Linked DNA regions of Homo sapiens. Each later gene encodes a partner of the first gene's protein in a complex. Each region holds a gene or a part of one and is shown in the gene's direction. Other genes may lie near its edges.

Region 1 (13,094 bases):
AAAAGTTAAGACTCATGATCCTAACATCTTAAACAAGTAAAGGTGACAAACCCTTCTTATATATACAAAGCAAGGAACCTAAGAGGACCCAGAGACGTAATTTAAACATAATTTAAATACAATTTTTAATGTAGCCTAATACATTCTAATATCATTAACATTTTAACCATTAGGGATATGAAAATTGATTATTAGGTCAACATTTTTATGAAACATACTTTTTTGAATTTTAATTAAGGCTAAAAAGTAGATTCAATGAATTAAAACTGTTTATTTGAAAAGTAATCAGGATGACTGAACGGATTAAAAGTATTACATTTTAGATTCAGATGGTCTTCTATTTCAAGCTCTTGTATTTGTTTTTCTCACAATGCTAAATTCTCATCTTCAGAGACTATCCCTGGGAAAAGACTACGCATGCACATCCAAAAAATAAAAAAGATAATCAGTCTATCAGTCCGATTCTCTGACGAGATCATCTCCCTGTACCCTGTATCAGTGGAGTGTATATCAGTTTAAACTATGACTGTATAAACACTCAACTGAGCACACTTCGGTATTTCATGTCTACCTTTAATTATCTGTCCCCGGCACCCAAAAAACAAATAATTGATATATTCCTTGGATTTACCATAGGTGCTCCATTTTCTTCAGCAATCCATAACTCTTTAAAATGCAGAAGAAAAAAAGGATTTATGTACATATATTAACAGGAGACCTTTTGAAAACACCATGCATTTTATACCCAGCTGGTTTCAAGCAAAGTTTTTGATACTACCACAGTAAACACCGCTTGATACTACCCAGTTAACACTATTCTTTCCTTACAGGTTATTAGTTATTTAAGAATATGACCCACACCTTCGTATACACAAAATAAGATGCACATCAGTGCTTAATAAATGTTTTCTGAAGAAAATGAATGAATGGATTAATTCCAGACTCCACAGAATTAGCATTGTTATCAATCCTCACTTTGGGAAATTTCCCCTGCATGACTGACCCCACCAAAAACCATATGTTCTCAAAATACTACAAGAAGCATAAATCCCACTTAAATATGTCTGTCTTTCCTTTTGCAATAAAAAAAATTAAAAACGTTGAAAAGCTGATCACACGTAATAAAACACAAAGAAATACAAATATGATGTAACATCAACAAGATGTTACCTTGAGGATAATATGTTAACTTCACCAAAGCTATAATCTGCAGAATTGTGTGGCAAATGTGACATTGAAAAAATGTCGGTGGGGGGGGGAATGAGTGATCTAAGTAGATTTTTGGTTGCTTGGCAGCAATGAAATAGCCAAATTATTAATTATGCCTAAGGTTTCTGGAAAGCGTACAAAAGTAAGCTCAACTACCCTCTGACTTAGTGTTTCTAACAGTTTACAAAATAATAGCTAACATTTATTTAGCACTTACTAAGCACCACTTACTATTATAACCACACTACATGCGCTACCTCATTCAATCCTTACCACGACTCTTGAAATATTATTCCCATTTTATAGACAGGGAAAACAGAGAAGTAATTTGCCAAAGGCCACATAGCTAGAGAGCCGTAAAGCTAAAATTGTAACACAGTCTACCCCCAGAGCCTGAACTCAATCTCCATGCTATAAACATTGCCCACTGGAACTATTTAATCCACTTATGTAATTTAATAGTACTTCAATTAAATTGACTATATATCTGTAATATCTCATAGATTCATTTTATTAAGGAACCGACATCCAATGGCTTGGCTCTGTTCCACTTAAAAATAACAGTATGCTGCGGGGTTCCCAGTAATGAACGTACAATGTATACGCCTAAAAAGTGAACTCTGGAACAACCTACCCTATATGTCCAGATTTTGATAACTAAAAAGAAAAGTAGTATCATCAATTCTAACATAGGAATAAGAACTATACAGGAAAACGCAGAGTAGCGGGGGAAAAACAAACAAAAAACGCTATCACTTGCATTTAATTTTTTTCTATTGCATTCAGTCTCTATGTGTTTATTCAACTATGGTCAAGGCACAAAGCCTGAATATTTTATTATGAACTAATTGCCTGCCAACTTGAGTCAACCTGGAGAAAGGGTGACAAATAGTTCATTTGCCTCTTGTTTCCTGCAATACCTCCCTAAAAAAATGGAAGCTGGGGGTGTGGCATGCTCTAAAGAAAATTATATTCTTCTCTTTTGGAGCCCAGTTTCCTACCAGACAACTTGGAGCTCTCCTGCAGTCTGCTAGTGGCCAGCTACCCTAAATGATTTAAGATTAAGTTCCCTCTGGTCATAAGGAAGCAGGGAGTCAGGAAAACTGCCTCTGTGATCTCCTAGTTAAGTCATTTAACTTTTCTCTACAAGCAAAGTTCACTTTTGGCTGTTGAGAGCATAAAATTGCCAGATTACTCTTTTAATTGTGAAAACACACAGGTGAGTGATGCCCATGAAGGATACTCCCTCAAGGGCTCTAACAATTATAATCATTGCAGTCAATTTTGTCTGGCAGGGAAATCCTGTTTGAAAATGTAATTTTTAAGGACAAAAACGCGACGTGGCGGCTGGCACACGAACGCTGAGAAAGTGAAAGAGGTTCTAAGGAAAGAGAAAAATACACCCTTTTGCCTAAGAATTACGCTCTGACGAGGAAAAACTATTCGGAAACTTCCAAACCCAGGTTGAAGGCGTGTTGAAGAGAGGGAGAGGGTCAGGGGCGTATTTTTCTTTTGCTCCGGACGAATCCAGCGACCCCTGTGGAGTACCCCCAAAGGTTTGGTGGTTTCCAAAACGAGTTCCCGGGACTCGGTCCCCTTCTCCTCACCTGAAGCACGAAGACTTCTCAGCTGGCCTCTAACTCGGGCCAGCGACTACCACTACGGTCCAGGAGAACCTGAATGCGCCGCGCGTCTAGGTCCTGCCCCTGGGGGAAACTTGTAAGGACGGACAGATTGGGTCCACGTCCGCCCAAGCAACTGAGGACCGTCTGCCTTTGGTTCCGCTGTTTCCAGCCTCAGCTGCCAAAGGGTCCTGTTGGCCTGGGGTTTCCAAACGACTTTCCTGGGGGAAATAAATAAGACCTCACTATTGCCATGTTTAAATTCACTTTTACTTTTTCCATTTTTATTTTTTGGTCTGAAACAACTTTAAATCTAACTTTTCATTTATCCTTATCTCTGCTCTTTGGTTTACAATGAAAGTATATTAAACTTGTATTCTGATAACACAGCAGTTATACTCCAATTTTTAACTAAAAGTGGGAATTTCTGTCTCATTAGCTCTATGTTTAGAAACTACAAGGAGCAAGGTGGCACAGTAGTGGGATTGATTGTAATGTCAAAATCTCTCTGCTTTAACCAAATGTACAATTCCTTTAAAATATGGACCTCATCATCTGAACACTGTTAAATGGCAAGTGTAACACTGAATTTGAAATCTAAAGTACTTGGATTAGGTGTGAAAACATCTGTGGCACTGATAAACCTTATACAATGTGGGTGTCAAAAAAGACAAACTTTAAAACACTTCTATTCTTCACCAATGATCCATGCAATTTTACAAGCAACTGGCAAAATATGCATATTTTCAGACTGGATTAAGATATTCTCTTAATGTCACTTAATCCAGAAAGTATTTCAGAGACAAATGACTCAATTCTGAATTGCCTTGCCTGTATAGTTCAAGACAAAATTTTGTGTTAGGAATTTTCTGAAAACTTCAGTTTTCTCTCAGAAAAATGAAAATAATATTACCTACGTCTCATGGGCTGTTTTGAGAATTAACTGAGAGACCATATGTAAAGGGACTAATAAAATACCTGGGAAGTCAAAACGTAAAGTACTATACAATGAGTTCTTACTGGAAATAAAGACATCTCGATTTTATTACCAAGACCAGCAGCACACAAATAACCATTTCATTAGCTAAGATACACGTAATACAGCCAAAAATAAGTAGTAGCTTTATTGATCCTCTGTCTAGTGATCAGAAACAATAATATAACATGCATCACATACAGTACACAATACTCCCGATTTTCCTCAACAGGAAATAAATGTCCATAATACAGAGGTTTCCATATATTGTTGCATTTATAATACTCTGCATGGGTATGAGTCATCCTATTTATAAAGTGATATTGAATCCACAAAATATAAGCTCCAAGAGGGAAGAGTTTGATTCCATTGCATACTATTGTGTCTAAAATCTAAATAATTGCTAAATGGATACAATAACAGTAATATATAGAACAATGAAATTCAGATACTGTTATTAAAAACACCCTGCCAAATAAAGTTATTTTAGCAAACGTATTTCCGATTTGTTCCAGGTATTTTCTCTCTTTTTAAAGTGTCTATGCTGAAATAATATCTATAACCTGGGACTTAAAAAAAATCACTTCACCTAATAATAAACCAAGCCAAAATCTTTAAATTTATTTTGTTATGCCATCATTAGACAGAGAATGTAAAAAGTAACCAAACAGAAAATAGTTTCACGGTCAGTACTAATGGGAGTAGGCCTGGAAGTCCTGAGAAATGAAGCCTGAGGCCTCAACCCAAAAGATCTCCAATTAATTCAGGTGAAGAGACCCCACATTTTGGCCCATATTAATGTGTCTGGAAGAAACAGGTCCCTACAACTTCTTGGAGGCCTCACTACTCAGAGAAAAGAAAATAAACACCCAGAACCCATTAATCCACACCCAAACTCCACCTCTCCCCCTAGCAGAGGGCATAGGCCAACCCCTGCCCGCAGCAGTCTCACTCACACCCTTAACTCTGGGACCGGGCCCTGCACCCGCCGGTCTACAGGAGGCCTGGTGATCTCAAGTGGCTGCCTCCCACCAGCAGCTCCGGCCTAGCCCCGCCCACTTTGGCCACCGCCTCCGGAAACGGCCGCGCGCGTTGCCACGGTGACGAGCAAGCAAAGAGCTTCCCCTGCGCAGCCAGGCTGAGCTTCTTGGCGCCAAGCTGCCGCGAGCCGTGACAGCGTCCGACGTGATGACATCACGCGAGCGGCAGCCAATGAAACGAAGCGCTGAGGAAAGTGGCTTGGGTTTGAATATTGTGGTTGAGTCTGAAGCGCTGGGAGGCGGACATTAAAGTGAAGTGGTTGCGGTAACCTGGCCTGGGCCTGAAGTGAGTGAGAGGCACATGAAGGTAAAACTGGACTCTGGGACGCTCCTTTTGGTGACTTGTATTATTGGGAACGGAGGGTCCTGCCGCTTCAGGTCTAGAAGACCAGGTGGGCTTCTTGACAAACACAGAAGCGTTGAGGGGTGGGGGATCAGGGTACCTGGGGAGAAAGTGAAAGGAAAAAGGGATTCGAGAACCTGCTAAGAGCACAGCTCTGCTTGACCGTAATCCTCGACTGCTCAGCTGGAAGGGCAGGGATCTCCTTAAGTCCTGAGAGGAAGTCTTAAGTTTTAAAGGGCATCTTGGCCCCTTTCCCAGACTGGCAGAGAACTTTAACTGCCCAGCACCTTGTAGTGTCAGCTTTTTTCCGGACTCCAAATTGGGAGTGTTTTGTTTCAGACTCACATATAAGCGTACCCAGGGGCTTACCTATCAAACGAGGAGCTTTTGTTCATCACTGCATAAAATTTTTGTCTGAAGAGCTTTAACTGTTAGTCTTGCACTGGTCAATCGGGAACCCCTCCTGAGCCCCAGTTGTAGGTAGCATCGAGATAAAAGCCGCTCTGACTGCCTAACGGGATTGCCGAGGATCAGATGAGGTACGGAAGAGATACTGTTTGGCAAATGCTCTGCAGATGAAATTAAACTGTAAACATTTAGAATCAGTCCTATAGTCTGTTCTTGGTTTCCGCAGGACTTTTTTTTTTTTTTAGGAGCTCATTAGTCACTCAGTTACAGAGAAGCCAAGACTGACTGCTGTTTATTATATGAGAAGAGAGTATTTGACCAGAATGAACTGATTTTGTGGTATAATATATAGTTTAGATTATGGATAATTAGGTAGAAATTTAGGCACTCTACAGATTTTAATTTTTAGTGTCATTCCACCACGTCTAGCCTCCTGTTTCGTTTTTGTAAGGTTTTTATAAACTTTGATGCTAGAGAATGTGATATCCAATGACTAGATAGTGCTTCTTATTAAGTTCATAGTTTGTAAGAACTATTTCAATAAACAAAGATTATCTACAAAGCACAATCACAAAGAAAAAAACTTAAAAGATTATCTGCCTTTAATAGTAGTAATTAATCTCCTTTTCTATTATTTATTCATTTATTTGAGACAGAGTCTCGCTCTGTGGTCCAAGCTGGAGTGCAGTGACGTGATCGCTGCTCACTGCAACCTCCACCTCCCAGGTTCAAGCAATTCTCGTGCCTCAGCCTCCCGAGTAGCTGGGATTACAGGCGTTTGCCACCACACTCGGCTAATTTTTGTATCTTTGGTAGAGACGGGGATTCACTGTGTTGGCCAGGCTGGTCTCGAACTCCTGACCTCAAGCCATCTGCCCGCCTCGGCCTCCTAAAGTGCAGGAATTACAGGTGTGAGGCAGGGCACCCAGCCCTTCCTCTTCTACTATTGAAAAGTATTTACAAATACATAATATTTTTATATTGAAAGTGCATCTTGTCCCATCATAGAAATACCCCAAATCAATTAAGAGACACGATAAAAATGATTTTTTTTTTTTTTTTTTTTTTGCTGACAACTGTGAAAACTAAGAGGAAAAAAAATAGCTCAGCTGTCAGTGCCGGCCTTCCCTCCAGTTGAACCTTTTATTCTTCCCTGATGGTTGTAAGTTGGTGGGAGTAGTGCCCCCAAGACTGATATTCCAAAAAGAGCTTTAAGATGGACTGTAGATGATAGTGTTGAGTATCGTTTTCAGTCCTATACAGTGTTTGTTGAATCTGAATCTAATTCAGGTTTGAGTTTGTATTTAATATATCATAACTGTCACTCTACTTCTGTATCATTGTTTGGAAGCATTCTCTTCTGATTCCAGTAGAACCTAGCTGTTAATAACATGGACTTTAGATTTGTACCCGTTAAGGAGTTTGTGTTTTATTCTTCTGGTGAGAAGTCATTGGAGACTTTAGAGCAGGTGAATGCCATGTGATGCATCACATGATCTGAATGCTTTTGATGAACGTATCAGTGAATACAATCAATGAATTAAATTTATTATAGTACTTTCATAAAATTAGGGGTGAATCTTTGACTGAATTGACTTATATTTGACATTTGGTTGCCCACTTGTTACGTCATCTTGGAAAAGTTACTTATCCTAAGGCTAAGTCTTTGTTTTTGTAAAATGGAAATACTACTACAACCTACCTTACGTGATTATTATAAGGATTGAATGCAATGACGAATGTCAAGTGTTTACTATAATGCATGAGACAGAGTGTACATACTCAAATGAAAAGCATTGTTGTTCATTATTAATAATTATCACCATATCAACCTAATCTAAGCATTGTTAAAGCATACTTATTGAGAATGGCCACTCTGTGATATCTGACAAGTACAGAGAAATCATAATCAGTTTTATTTTCACATTCAAGAGCTCCTGTGCCAGGCCCTGAGGTTTCTATCAAAAGTAAGGAAATATAAGAGAGTGGTACCAGAAGCTGAGTTTTGGGGGAAATAGGGAGATTTTGGTCAAAGGGTACACTTTAAGTTATAAGATAAATAAGTTCATGGCATTTAATGTACAGCATCAATGGTGATAGACGTATTAATTTAATTGTGGTAATCATTCCATTGTGTATAAGAATATGAGACCATCACATTGTACATCTTCGTTTTATACAATCTTTGCCAATTAAATGTTTTAAAATTTCTAAAAAAGTAAGCAATATATATATTTTTAACTTCTATAAGAAAATTTCTGAGGGTTATATATTTACATCAGGGAGAGTAGTGATTAAGTATTTGGCCTTTAGATTCAGTCAGTCTGAGTTCAAATCCCATGGCATGTGCTTCCTCAGTTGTGTGACTTTAGCCAGTTAATTTCTCTGTATTACACTTTCTGCCTTAATAAAATAGGAATGACAGTACAGGGTTTATGTCATAGGTTGTTATGACGATTTAGTAAGAGTATGTCAATTGTTAGTACATTTCTATTTGTGGGATATGAGCTCAATAGAAAATATAACTTATTGTTACTAAATTAAATGTTGCGATTAAGGTAAATTTTAATAGTGGTTTTGTTGTTGTTGTTTGTCTGTTTTGAAATAAAAATACCTAGACCTTGTTTAAAATTTAAATATTACAAAAGAATATGAAATGGAAAATAAACCTGTCTCTCACTCAGACCTTCATATTTCCCTTCTATAGGGAAAGTGGTATTATCAATTTCTTGTGTACCCTTCTGGGAATGACCATGCATATACATATATATCTTTTAAAAATACAAATGGTAACATGCTATAAGTCTATTAAAACTGTACTGGTTTATTCATTCATTTATTCAACAAGTATTTATTGGGTCCTAAATATTTGACAAGCAGTGTCCTAGGTGCTGGTGTGCAGATGAACTCCGTGCTCTCACAGTGCTTACATTCTAGAGGGAAAACAAGCAATAAATATGTAACCAGATAACATATACTTTCCAATTAGTGCTAAACTCAAGAAAGAAAAATAAACCTAGTAAGGGATTGGAGAAGCAAAGGCAGGGTGACACTATCTTAGATAGATTCTTTAGGGAAAGCCTCTGTAAAGTGGCATTTGAAGAGACCTGAATAATGAAGTGAGGGATTACAATTTGCAAATATCTGGAGGTAATGCCTGCCAGTAAGCAAAAATAAAAAAGCCAGGAGGCCAAAACAAGACTGAAGTGTTTTAGGAATGCTAAGAAAGTCATTGCAGCTGAAGCAGAATAATGAAATGGGGAGACAGCAGTAGAAGTCATTGTCAGAGAGGTAGGCAGGGCCATATGTGGAATTTATAGGCCATGGTAAGGAGTTTGTATTTTATTCTTATGATGAGAAGTCATTGGATAGTTTGGAGCAGGTAAATGACATGCAATACATATCATGATCTGAATGCTTTTGAAGAAAGTATCAGTGCATACAATCAATGAATTAAATAAAATTTATTGTACTTGCATATAATTAGGGGTGAATCTTTAATCTGGGATGAGCACTAGCTACATATGTTATAAGTTAAAAATTGACCTGTTCAACTTGGCTTATTACCATGCAAGTATTCAGGATAAATAGATTTTAATACCTCATTAAACATTGCAGAGGCATGAGCTGTTCTACATAAATGAATCTTCCAGAAAATTGAATATTAGCTTTGCTAAGTAATAAAGTATTTTAACCACACTTAATGATGAAAATAAAACATGATCTTGCCATTTCTTTAATTTTCTAAACAAGAAATTGGGAACATTATTTCTTTCTTATTTTTTTCTTTTTGATGCCTCAGGGTTCTCATTGTGATTGCCTGTTGTTGTCAACTATTGTACTCTAATATGTTGTTTCTCTTGGAGATATACATTTTCTTTTTCCTTCTACTCTAAGTGAGTAAATTGCTTTTTGGGGTCTGTGAGCATTTTTTATAGTTTATTAATTCATTCATTGGTATATTTGAAAATTTACTATATACTAGACTCTCTATGAGAGAATAGGGATATAAAGTAAAAGTCTATTAACTGTCATTTCTTATTCTCTTGTACCCTTTTCTAATCATGCATAATAATCATAAAATTTTGGAGCTAGAAAAAGACTTTCCGTATCATATAATCTAACCCTTTTGTTTTATACATTAGCAAGTAAAGCCCCTTTCCTTAGCCCCTTCATTCTTCTTTTTTGATACCCTACTCTCTCTAGACTAGACAAATATTCTTCTTCAGGTTTAGTATCTATTATATAAAATGCTTGGTACCAGAAGTTTTTTTGAATTTTGGAATTTTTTTTTTTTTTTAATTTTTGCATTGTGCTTACTGGTTGAGGATCTCTAATCTGAAAATCCAAAATACTCTAATGAGCATTTCCTTTGAGTGTCATGTTGGTGCTCACAAAGTTTTAGATTTTAGATTTTCAAATTTGGAATGCTCAACCTGATTATAATGAATAATCACGTTGGAAGTATTTGTCTTTCATGTTTTAGTTCCACCAATGAAATCCTACCAGTTTGCTCTTTTGATTCTGTTCAGTAAATACCACTTAGGGGTAGATAGGACAAAATTGATCAGAGGCTATAATACTATCTTCTGAACAGCTGTCTGAAAAGAATTTGTGAATCCACACATTCTTGCGCAGATAACGATATTTAGGCTTTTCTTTTGCTGCTTCATATTAAACATGGTTGAAGAATTTACTCTCTCTGTGCCTTATTCAGAATCAACTAAATGCTCATTTCTTTTAGTCAGCCATCCTAGAAAACAAAGAAGGCACCACATAATAATGTAGGAACGATCTCATTAATTCCTGCAGATGTAAGTATATTTGAACATAGATTAATTTTTACATTTGATGATTCTGTTGACCTTAGGCATTTTTATTAAGAAAATTCTATCCACATATTTGTTTTTAAAAGATAGGGAAATACATGATACTTTAAAAATTAACATCCATGTCTTTGTTAAAATATGCAACTAGTTGTGAAACAAAGTTATATTTGACATTATACTTAAATTCTATTGACTGAAAGAGTCAAACTCTGTAAAATATTTGAAGAGATTTATTCTGAGCCAAATATGAGTGACCATGGCCCATGACTCAGCCCTCAGGAGGTCCTGAGAGCATGTGCCCAAAGTGGTCAGTGTACAGCGTGGTTTTTTATATTTTAGAGAGGCATGAGACATCAATCAAATACATTTAAGAAATACGTTGGTTTGGTTCAGAAAGGCGGGACAACTCAAAGCGGGGGCTTCCAAGCTATAGGTAAATTTAAACATTTTCTGGTTGACAATTGGTTGAGTTTGTCTAAAGACCTGGGATTGATAGAAAGGAATGTTCAGGTTAAAAATAATTGTGGAGACCAAGTTTTATTTTGCAGAGGAAGCTCTCAGCAAATTTCAGAGAGAGAGAGCAGGTTGTAAAATGTTTCTCCGCAGAGCTAAAAGGGTGCCTGGCTTTTAGTTGATTATCTACTGGATCTGCAAAGAAAAGAGGAAAACAAAGAGGGAAGGGGATTCTCTATAGAACGTGGACTTTTCCAACAAGAAACTTTGCAGGGCAATTTCAAGGCTTGGCAAGTAAATCTATTTTGGGTGTTAAATATTTTTTCTTTGTCTCATAATGTTATGCCAGAGTCAATTGAAAAGCAAGTCACAATATACGGGGTCAAATAAAACGCATCTAATGAAAATCCATGATTTATAGGGCGTGACTCCCCAGACCCCTTAGATAGGAATTTGGGCAAAATAAAAAATCAGAGTTTAGTCCTCATTCCTTTAGGTAATTGTCCAAATTTCTCCCTGGAATGTTACTTAAATAATCCCCTCATTATAGTCTTATAAAGCACTGTTAACCTTTTCCCTATAATGGCACTTGTCACAGTTATACCTTTACATGTTTGTGTCAATATTTTATTAATATCTGTTTCCCTCACTACACTGTAAATAATAATAGCAAACACTTGTAGTTCATACTCTGTACAAAGTATTGTTCTAAGTGTGTAATCTTTACAACTTTATGAGATAGGTACTGTTGTTAGTCTTACTTTACAGATGGGGAAGCTGAGCCACAAGGAGGTTAAGTAACTTATCCACTATCACAGTCAGTACGTCATAGAGCTGAGATTTTAACCTAGGCTGCCTGGCTCCAACATGTAATAGTTGTCATGAATTAATTAACTAATTAATTAGGGAGGGATATCCTCCAGCCTTGAGATTCTAAGGTTTATTTTGAAATAATCACTTAGTATTTTATGTTTACTTTGTTAACAATTTCATTTATGTATATTTAATCTATCATTTAAAAATAGTATATCTGTTAAAATATTGTTGAATATTTCTAAAAGCTTTTAGAAATGTGTATAGGAGATAGTTTTTGTTATCACAAGGAATATGGGACACTGCTGGCCTTTAATAGACAGGGGAGAGAAATGCCAAACATCCTCTAATAGGGCAGTTCTAAATGCCCTATAACAGGGCAGTTCTAAGCAAGGAAGAATTGGCCTACCCAAAGTGCTAGTCATAAGCCCATTGAGAAAAACTCAAAAGATGAACTCAGTCTCTTTGGCAAGAAGAAGCAGGAGTGGGGCAGATAGGAAGAGAATTGGTATTTACTGAATACCTTAATACTTACCCCTTTTAGCCTTTGCAACAAACATTGAGGTATTATTATCTCTTTTATACAAATAGAAACCTGAGACTCATGGGGTTAAGTAACTTGTCCAAGGTCATAAAAGTGAGGTGTAGGTGCTTTGTGACACTTGGCTAGACGGAAGCTCAGGGATGAAAAACAAAGTAGTAATTCACCTGGGACCTGACTTAGAATCCAAATGACCATCCCTTCCTTTTCAGTATTCTATTTTTGGCCAAAGACAGAGTCCTAAAAAGGCAAAGATATGTCTAGCATCTACTGCTTTTAGATTCCTTTGAATTCTGTCCTTATTTGAATTCTGTCCGAAAGTATATGGCTAAGTGGTTTTGTGACATATTTCAGCTTGAATATTGCTATTTCTCCCATTTAAAAAAAAATACAAACAAAACATCTTGACACCACCCCCCCCCTTCACTCACACCATTTTTCTCCTCCCTTTGAAACAGTCCTTTCCATATACCTTGTCTATGGATCTTCTCCTTTCGGGTTTTTTCCCCACTACTGCCCCAAAATTGCTTTTCTCGATGGCCTCTGTGTTAGTAAATCCCATGGTTAATTCTCAGTAAGTACTTGACCTATTAGCAGTATTTAACACAATAGATCGCTGTTTCCTCCTTCATTTAGGATTTCCCGAAAGTTTTTAAAGCTTAATACTGCATTAAGACTGAGGACAGCCTTTATTTTCTTATTTTCTTAACTTCCACCTGCCCTGACATTTCCACCTGGATGTCTGTCAAAACTCTGAGACTTAAGCTATCCAAAACTGAACTGATCTGACCCTGCCTCCCACCACTTCCCGCCCTGCTGAAAAAAGCCCTGCTTCTTATTTCCATCTCAGTTGGTGACTA
Region 2 (6,860 bases), on another chromosome or scaffold:
TTTCTAATTTAAGTTGGAGCTATCTGTGCAGCAGTTTCTCTACAGTTGTGCATAAATGTTTTTACTATAAAATGAGCTAATGTATAAAATACTGCTGTATACCATAATAAAGATAGTAATACTTGATTTTAGTGGCTTTTGTTTTCTAAAATGAAAATAGCTTGAAATATTTATTATAAAAATAATAAAAGCTAGATATAAAAATCTAAAGAGAAAAAAAACCAGTCACCCTTATCTAATATTTTAGTGAGCAGTCTTCCACATGTTCATTTATAAAATTGGAATTATTTGATTTTGTGTATTGCTTTTCCCCCCTCAACATGTTGTGCACAATTTTGTACAGGCTTACATGGACATTTTTGATGACATGTTTTCTTGTATGGATATGCCACTACACATTTAACCAGTACTCGATGTCCATGTTGGTTATTTCTAATTTTTCACCATTATAAACAACCCTAAAGTTAATATCCTCACATATGTGTTTGCATACTCGTCTGTCACCTTAGGATACGTTTTCTAAAGGTAGAACTACAGCTTTGAACTCCTAGGCTCAAGTGATCTTCCCTCTCAGCCTCCCAAGTAGCTGAGACTACAGGGGGGTACCACCAAACCTGGCTAATATTTAAATTTTTTATAGAGATGGAGTCTCATTCTGTTGATCAAGCTGTTTGTGAACCCCTGGCCTCAAGCAATCGTCCTGCCTTGGCCTCCCAAAGTGCTGGGATTATAGGTGTGAGCCACCATGCCCGCCCTCTTCTAATTATCTGTCATGAGATGGATCTCCAGTCATTGCATTGAGGTTTATGTATTTAATATATTTAGTGTTTTCCCTATACCGGGGCATGGATTTTTGTCTTTCTTTGAGACAGGGTCTCTATCTGTTACCCAGGATGGAGTTCAGTGGCATGATCATAGCTCACTGCAGCCTTGAACTCCTGGGCTCTAATGACCCTCTTACTTCAGTCTCCCACTTAGCTAAGACTATAGGCATGTGCCGCCACACCTGGCCAATATTTCTTTAAAAATGTTTTTTGTAGAAAAATTAGCTGGGCATGGTGGCGGGCGCCTGTAGTCCCAGCTACTTGGGAGGCTGAGGCAGGTGAATGGCGTGAACCCGGGAGGCAGAATTTGCAGTGAGCTGAGATCATGCCACTGCACTCCAGCCTGGGTGACAGAGCAAGACTCTGTCTCAAAAAAAAAGATGTTTTTTGTAGAGCCAGGGATCTCACTATATTGTCCAGGCTGGTGAATTTTTATCCATTTTTTACTGCTGAATTCCCAGCACCTACAACAGTGCTGGCAAATAATAGATAACTAAATATTGAACAGGTGAACAAATTTTTTTTTTTTTTTTTTTTTTTTGAGACAGGGTCTCACTCTGCTACCCAGGCTGGTGTGCAGCGGCTTGATCACAGCTCACCGCAGCCTCCAACTGCCAGGTTCAGGTGATCTCCCATGTCAGCCTCCTGAGTAGCTGGGACTACAGGCATCCACCACCATGCCTGTCAAATTTTTGTATTTATTTATTTATTTTTTTGTAGATACGGGGTTTTGCCATGTTGCCCGGGCTGGTCTTGAACTCCTGGGCTCAATCGATCCCGCGACCTTGGCCTCCCAAAGTGCTAGGATTACAGGTGTGAGCCATTGCGCCTGGCCCAAATCATTTTAAATGTACTGGGAGATGCACTGATAGGAGGCCAAACTGGCAGCAGGACTGCCTGTTAGAAGTAATCAGATGATGGTGGCCTAAACTAATGGAGATAAAAAGATGTACACAGAGCTCTTTAGGAGGTGGACTAAGCAGTACTATCTGGTTTTAGGTTTAATGACAGAAGAGGCCTGGTGCAGTGGCTCACGCCTGTAATCACAGTACTTTGGGAGGCCAAGGCGGGCACATTACTTCAGGTCAGGAGTTCGAGACCAGTATGGCCAACATGGTGAACCGCCCCCCCAACCCCGTCTCTACCAAAAATACAAAAATTAGCTAGGTGTGGTGGTGCACACCTGTAATCCCAACTACTCAGGAGGTTGAGGTTGCAGTGAGCTGAGACCACGCCAGTGCACTCCAGCCTGGGCAACAAAGCAAGACTCCGTCTCAAAAAAAAAAAAAAAAAAAAAAAAGAATGACAGAACAGGCTGGGCTTGGTAATCCCAGCACTTTAGGGGGCTGAGGTGGGAGGATTGCTTGATAAGCCTGGGCAACATGGCAAGACTCCATCTCTACCAAAAAAAAAAAAAAAAGTGCAGGAAATCAGCCTGGTGGATGGTGGTGCCATTCACTGACATGTAGAACTGCAAATGTGGCAAATTTGGTATGGGAAGGAAGGGGCATGTGAAGAGGAAGATCATTTAGACTTGAACATACTGACACACAGCAGCTATTGAAACATTCAGGTGTGATTGTTGTAGCTGGATGTTGGATATTCCAGTCTGGAGCTCTGGAGAGCCATCTGGCCTGGAGACAAAGTGGGAGTGAGCAGCGTGTTTAATGATAGACCTGGAAATGGATGAGATCTCCCAGGGATAAGGTTTAGGAAGGACTTTTTAGGAGCATTAACACTTAAAGGATAGACGTTTAATTTTATTTATTCTTCAGAATAATTCTGTCGAGGTAAGTAGTATCATTCAGATTTTACTGTGGGAAACCTGAAGCTTAAAAAAGTTAACTTGTCAATAAGAAAGCTGGTTGGTCTGAGGTTCAAACCATATGTCTATGAGCTCCCAAAATCAATGCTCCTTTGTATGTCTCAAAGCACTGTACACAGCTGGTGCTTAATAGTTAAAATCTTCTATCACCCCTCCCCATTTGACTTGATAACTTAGGAAGGTAAAAGGCATGAGGCGGCTTTCACAGCTGTGGGACTTAGCTCTTGTTACCTTGGGCAGTTGTACAGATTCCTACAACCTGTATTTCAGGGTCGAAGTGAAAATATTTGTCTATCACTGAGTGTTTTGTATATTTATGGCTCTCGATCAAGAGATTATGTGTCAATGATAATAATCAGCTCTTGGCTACATTTCAATTTTTTTTCTTTTATTTTACTTTTAAGTTCTGGGATACATGTGCAGAACATGCAGGTTTGTTACATAGGTATACATGTGCCATGGTGGTTTGCTGCACCTATCAACCTGTCAGCTAAGTTTTATGCCCCGCATACATTAGGTATTTGTTCTAATGCTCGTGTTTTCTTTTTTTCTGAGGCAGTCTCGCTCACTGTAACCTCCACCTCTTGGGCTCAAGCCATCCTTCCGCCTCAGCCTCCATGGTAGCTGGGACTACAGTCGCGCGCCACCACGCCCGGCTAATTTTTTAAAAAAAATTATGTAGAGATGGGTCTTGCTATGTTGCCCACTCCAGTGGGCATCCCAAAATGTTACTGGCATCCCAAAATGTTAGGATTGCAGATATGAGCCACTGCGCCTGGCCTTTTTTAAAAAAAGTTTTATCCAGTGACAGGCTGGGCTATACACTTAATGTCTAAAGGTTTTTGCCTTTCAGTTCATATCAACGCGAGTAGAGTTAGCTAGCTATGTTTGTAAACAATATTCCGATATGCTTCGTTAAAGTAAGCCGATATTAAACATTTATATAAATCCATCCTCACAGGGTCAATCTGGAGATAAACTCACCGCTGCAGGGGGCGGGGAAGGAGGTGGGAACACGCTCATTGACAACTTCATTTCCATGAGAATGGTTGCTGTGGTGATTGCTGCGTCTTCCCATTGGTCATTGCCGAGCGTATTGCGGTTCTCCGGGAGGGTTATATTGGTTCCCATTCCACAGCGGCCGCAACGTGTCGAGAGCCGTAAGTAAAGTGTCGCAAAGCAGAAGGAAGGCGGGAGTCCCGACTGCAAACATTGAGGAAAGCCAGGCAGTAGAGGCCGCTATGGCGAACGTTCCGTGGGCAGAGGTCTGCGAGAAATTCCAGGCGGCGCTCGCTCTGTCGCGGGTGGAACTGCATAAAAATCCGGAGAAGGAACCATACAAGTCCAAATACAGCGCCCGGGCGCTACTGGAAGAGGTCAAGGCGCTGCTCGGCCCTGCGCCTGAGGACGAGGATGAGCGGCCTGAGGCCGAGGACGGCCCGGGTGCCGGTGACCACGCCCTGGGGCTGCCGGCTGAGGTGGTGGAGCCCGAGGGGCCCGTCGCCCAGCGAGCGGTGAGGCTGGCAGTCATCGAGTTCCACCTCGGGGTGAACCACATCGACACGGAGGAGCTGTCGGCGGGGGAGGAGCACCTGGTGAAATGCCTGCGGCTGCTGCGCAGGTACCGGCTCTCGCACGACTGCATCTCTCTCTGCATCCAGGCGCAGGTGAGAGCGAGCCCGGCCAGGCCGGCCCCTGTTGGCAAATGGCGAGGGATGGGGAGGAGCCCCTGCCAAGGCCAAGGGCAGACGTTGTAAGGCGCAATTCGTCCCCACGTTTTTGTAGCTCTGGACTGAGTCCCAAAGAGCGTCTGTGGTCTTCAAAAAAGCCAGTCTTATGGACTTATTGCCTTGTAACTAGATCTCCCACAGTCGGCCGTCCCCAGACTCCGTGTCCACCCTCGTCGCCCACACCAATATCGCTTGCTGCTGCTTCACTTAGACGTGGCGATGCATTGGTGTCCGAGACCCTCCTACATCGTCATGCGCTTTCCTCTCCACCAGTCCAACTCCTGTTCATTCTGTTAAGAAAATCCAAAGTAATTTAAATCTTAACGTCTCAAGGAAATGACAATGACCGGAGTACATTCTTTTTTGGTTTTGTCTTGTTTTTGTTTTTTTCTTAGAGATGGGGTCTCACTGTGTCGCCCAGGTTCGAGTTAAGTGGCACCATCATAGCTCATTGCAGCTTCCACCTCTTGGGCTCAAGCAGTCCTCCTGCCTCAGCCTTCATAGTAGCTGGAACCACAGGCGCATGCCACCATTCTTGGTAATTTTTTTAATTTTCTGTAGAGATGGGGGTCTCACTATATTGCCCAGGCTGGTCTTGAACTCCTGGACTCAAGTGATCCTTCTGGCTCACCTTCTCAAAGTGCTGGGATTACAGGCCTGAGCCGCTGTGCCTGGCTCGGAATACATTCTTAATTCAAAATAAAATGTCCAAAATCTGCAGCTTCCTTTCTTACCAAATTCATTTGTTTGCATCTTAGGGAATTCTTCCCCATTCTTGAAAACCTATCTCAAGAATCACTTCCTTTAGTATTAATAACTTTCTTGGGACCATTTTGGGCCAAACTGATCTCTCCCTCCTACCTTTGAATTCTTATAATACTTTTTGTTTCCCATTTATATGGTACTTGGTTTCTTAAATAAATCTGGGCAGGGCACAGTGGCTCCCATCTGTAATCCCAGCATTTTGGGAGGCCGAAGTGGGAGGATGGCGTGAGGTCAGTAGTTCAAGACCAGCCTGGGCAACAAAGTGAGACTCTGTCTCTTAAACAAAACAAAACAAAACAAAAAACCCACAAAACTAGCCAGGCATGGTGGTACACGCCTGTAGTCTTAGCTACTGGGGAGGCTAGGTTGAGCTGGGAGGATCACTTGAGCCCCTGGAGGAGCCATGATCATGCCACTGCAACTGCAGTCTGGGTGACAGAGCAAGACCTTTTCTCAACAACAACAAAATCCACATCAATATTCTAAAGTAATATTGGTCAACACCTGTGAAAAGAAGGGGTGAAAAAAAGAAAAATACTTTAAAAAGTTAAAATAATATTGGGACAGGTGAACATGGATGTTTATCACAGCAGTGTTGATTATTAAAGAAGGAAAATCGCAGGGCTGAGGCAGGAGGATCGCTTGAGCCCAGGAGGTCAAGGCTGCAGTGAGCCAAGATTGTATCACTGCACTCCAGCCTGTGCAACAGAGTGAGACCCTGTCTCAAAAAGCAAAGAAAAGGAAAACAATATAAATGTCAGTAGGAATATGATTAAATTCCGTTACATCCAAACAGAAGAACAGTACACAATTATTAAAAATAATAATTTATATTAACAAAAATTGGCAATATGAAGAGGGAGGAAGAAGACTATAAGCCATATTTAGAATTATGTAGAAAAGGCCGGATGTGGTGGCTCACACTTGTAATCCTAGCACTTTGGGAGGCTGGGATGAGATGATCACTCGAGCTTAGGAGTTCAAGACCAACCTGGGCACATAGTGACACCTCATCGCTACTAAAAATAAGAAAAAAAAATTATTCCAGGCATGGCTGCTTTGCTAGGCAGTATGTTCTTTGGGCAGCCATCGGGGCCCCAACCACCACCGGGGCTCTGGGGCCAGGCTTCCTTTACTTACCAGCAGCTCCAGGGCCTCTGAGACCTTCTAACAGTACTTTGGTGGATGACATGGAGTCATCTTTCCAGACTTGCTTTGCCTCTCCGTTAAGTCAGGACTATGTCAATGGCAGCAATCAGGAAGAAATTGGAACTGGTGTTGATCGGTGTATACACAAGTTTCTGGATATTGCAAGACAGAATATTTCTTTCCTACAAAAAAGATTGCAATTATCTGTCCAGAAACCAGAGCAAGTTATCAATGAGGATGTCGATGTCTCCGAACTAAGAAATGAATAACATTGGAGACATGCACTGGTCCAGAAGCACTTGACAAAGCTAAGGCATTGGCAGCAAGTGCTGGAGGTCATCACGTGCAGTACAAAAAGCTAGCTGACATCCATCAAGGCTCCTTGGTCTACCTTGAGCAGGCATTCAATATCCCTGCACTTCTGAAGTGCACCTGAGCAAAAGGGTAAAGGCTGTGGGCCTGAGAGTGGGCTGGTGTGGGAGAGCCCCATGCAGATGGTTTGCCACACATCCCTTCTTGTAGACTTGGCATTTTGGAAGAACTCTTTGACAGAGAATGAGTTGATTT

What was found.
Region 2: the proteins of KIF18A (region 1) and KIFBP are in contact, whole or in part, in a cryo-EM structure (PDB 7RSI), measured with the Homo sapiens proteins. Residues at the interface, in NP_112494.3 of Homo sapiens: Glu181, Thr183, Gln184, Lys185, Gly186, Arg274, Phe275, Val276, Glu277, Gly278, Thr279, Asn280, Ile281, Arg283, Ser284, Leu285, Leu288, Gly289, Val291, Ile292, Arg314, Lys317, Asp318, Gly322, Asn323; in NP_056449.1 of Homo sapiens: Ser150, Glu151, Tyr212, Tyr213, Gln216, His220, Gln238, Ile251, Asn252, Thr255, Gln258, Asn262, Gly414, Tyr415, Val459, Asp460, Leu461, Asn462, Pro463, Gln464, Leu467.

The regions. Positions count from the first base shown.
Region 1 is NC_000011.10:28,100,124-28,113,217, reverse strand, and holds the start of KIF18A (kinesin-like protein KIF18A), read left to right. Parts: upstream 1-5,061; 5' UTR 5,062-5,154; exon of another isoform or gene 5,155-5,729; intron 5,730-13,094.
Region 2 is NC_000010.11:68,984,943-68,991,802, forward strand, and holds the start of KIFBP (KIF-binding protein), read left to right. Parts: upstream 1-3,860; 5' UTR 3,861-3,890; coding exon 3,891-4,316; intron 4,317-6,185; exon of another isoform or gene 6,186-6,860. UniProt on the Homo sapiens protein: Activator of KIF1B plus-end-directed microtubule motor activity. Required for organization of axonal microtubules, and axonal outgrowth and maintenance during peripheral and central nervous system development.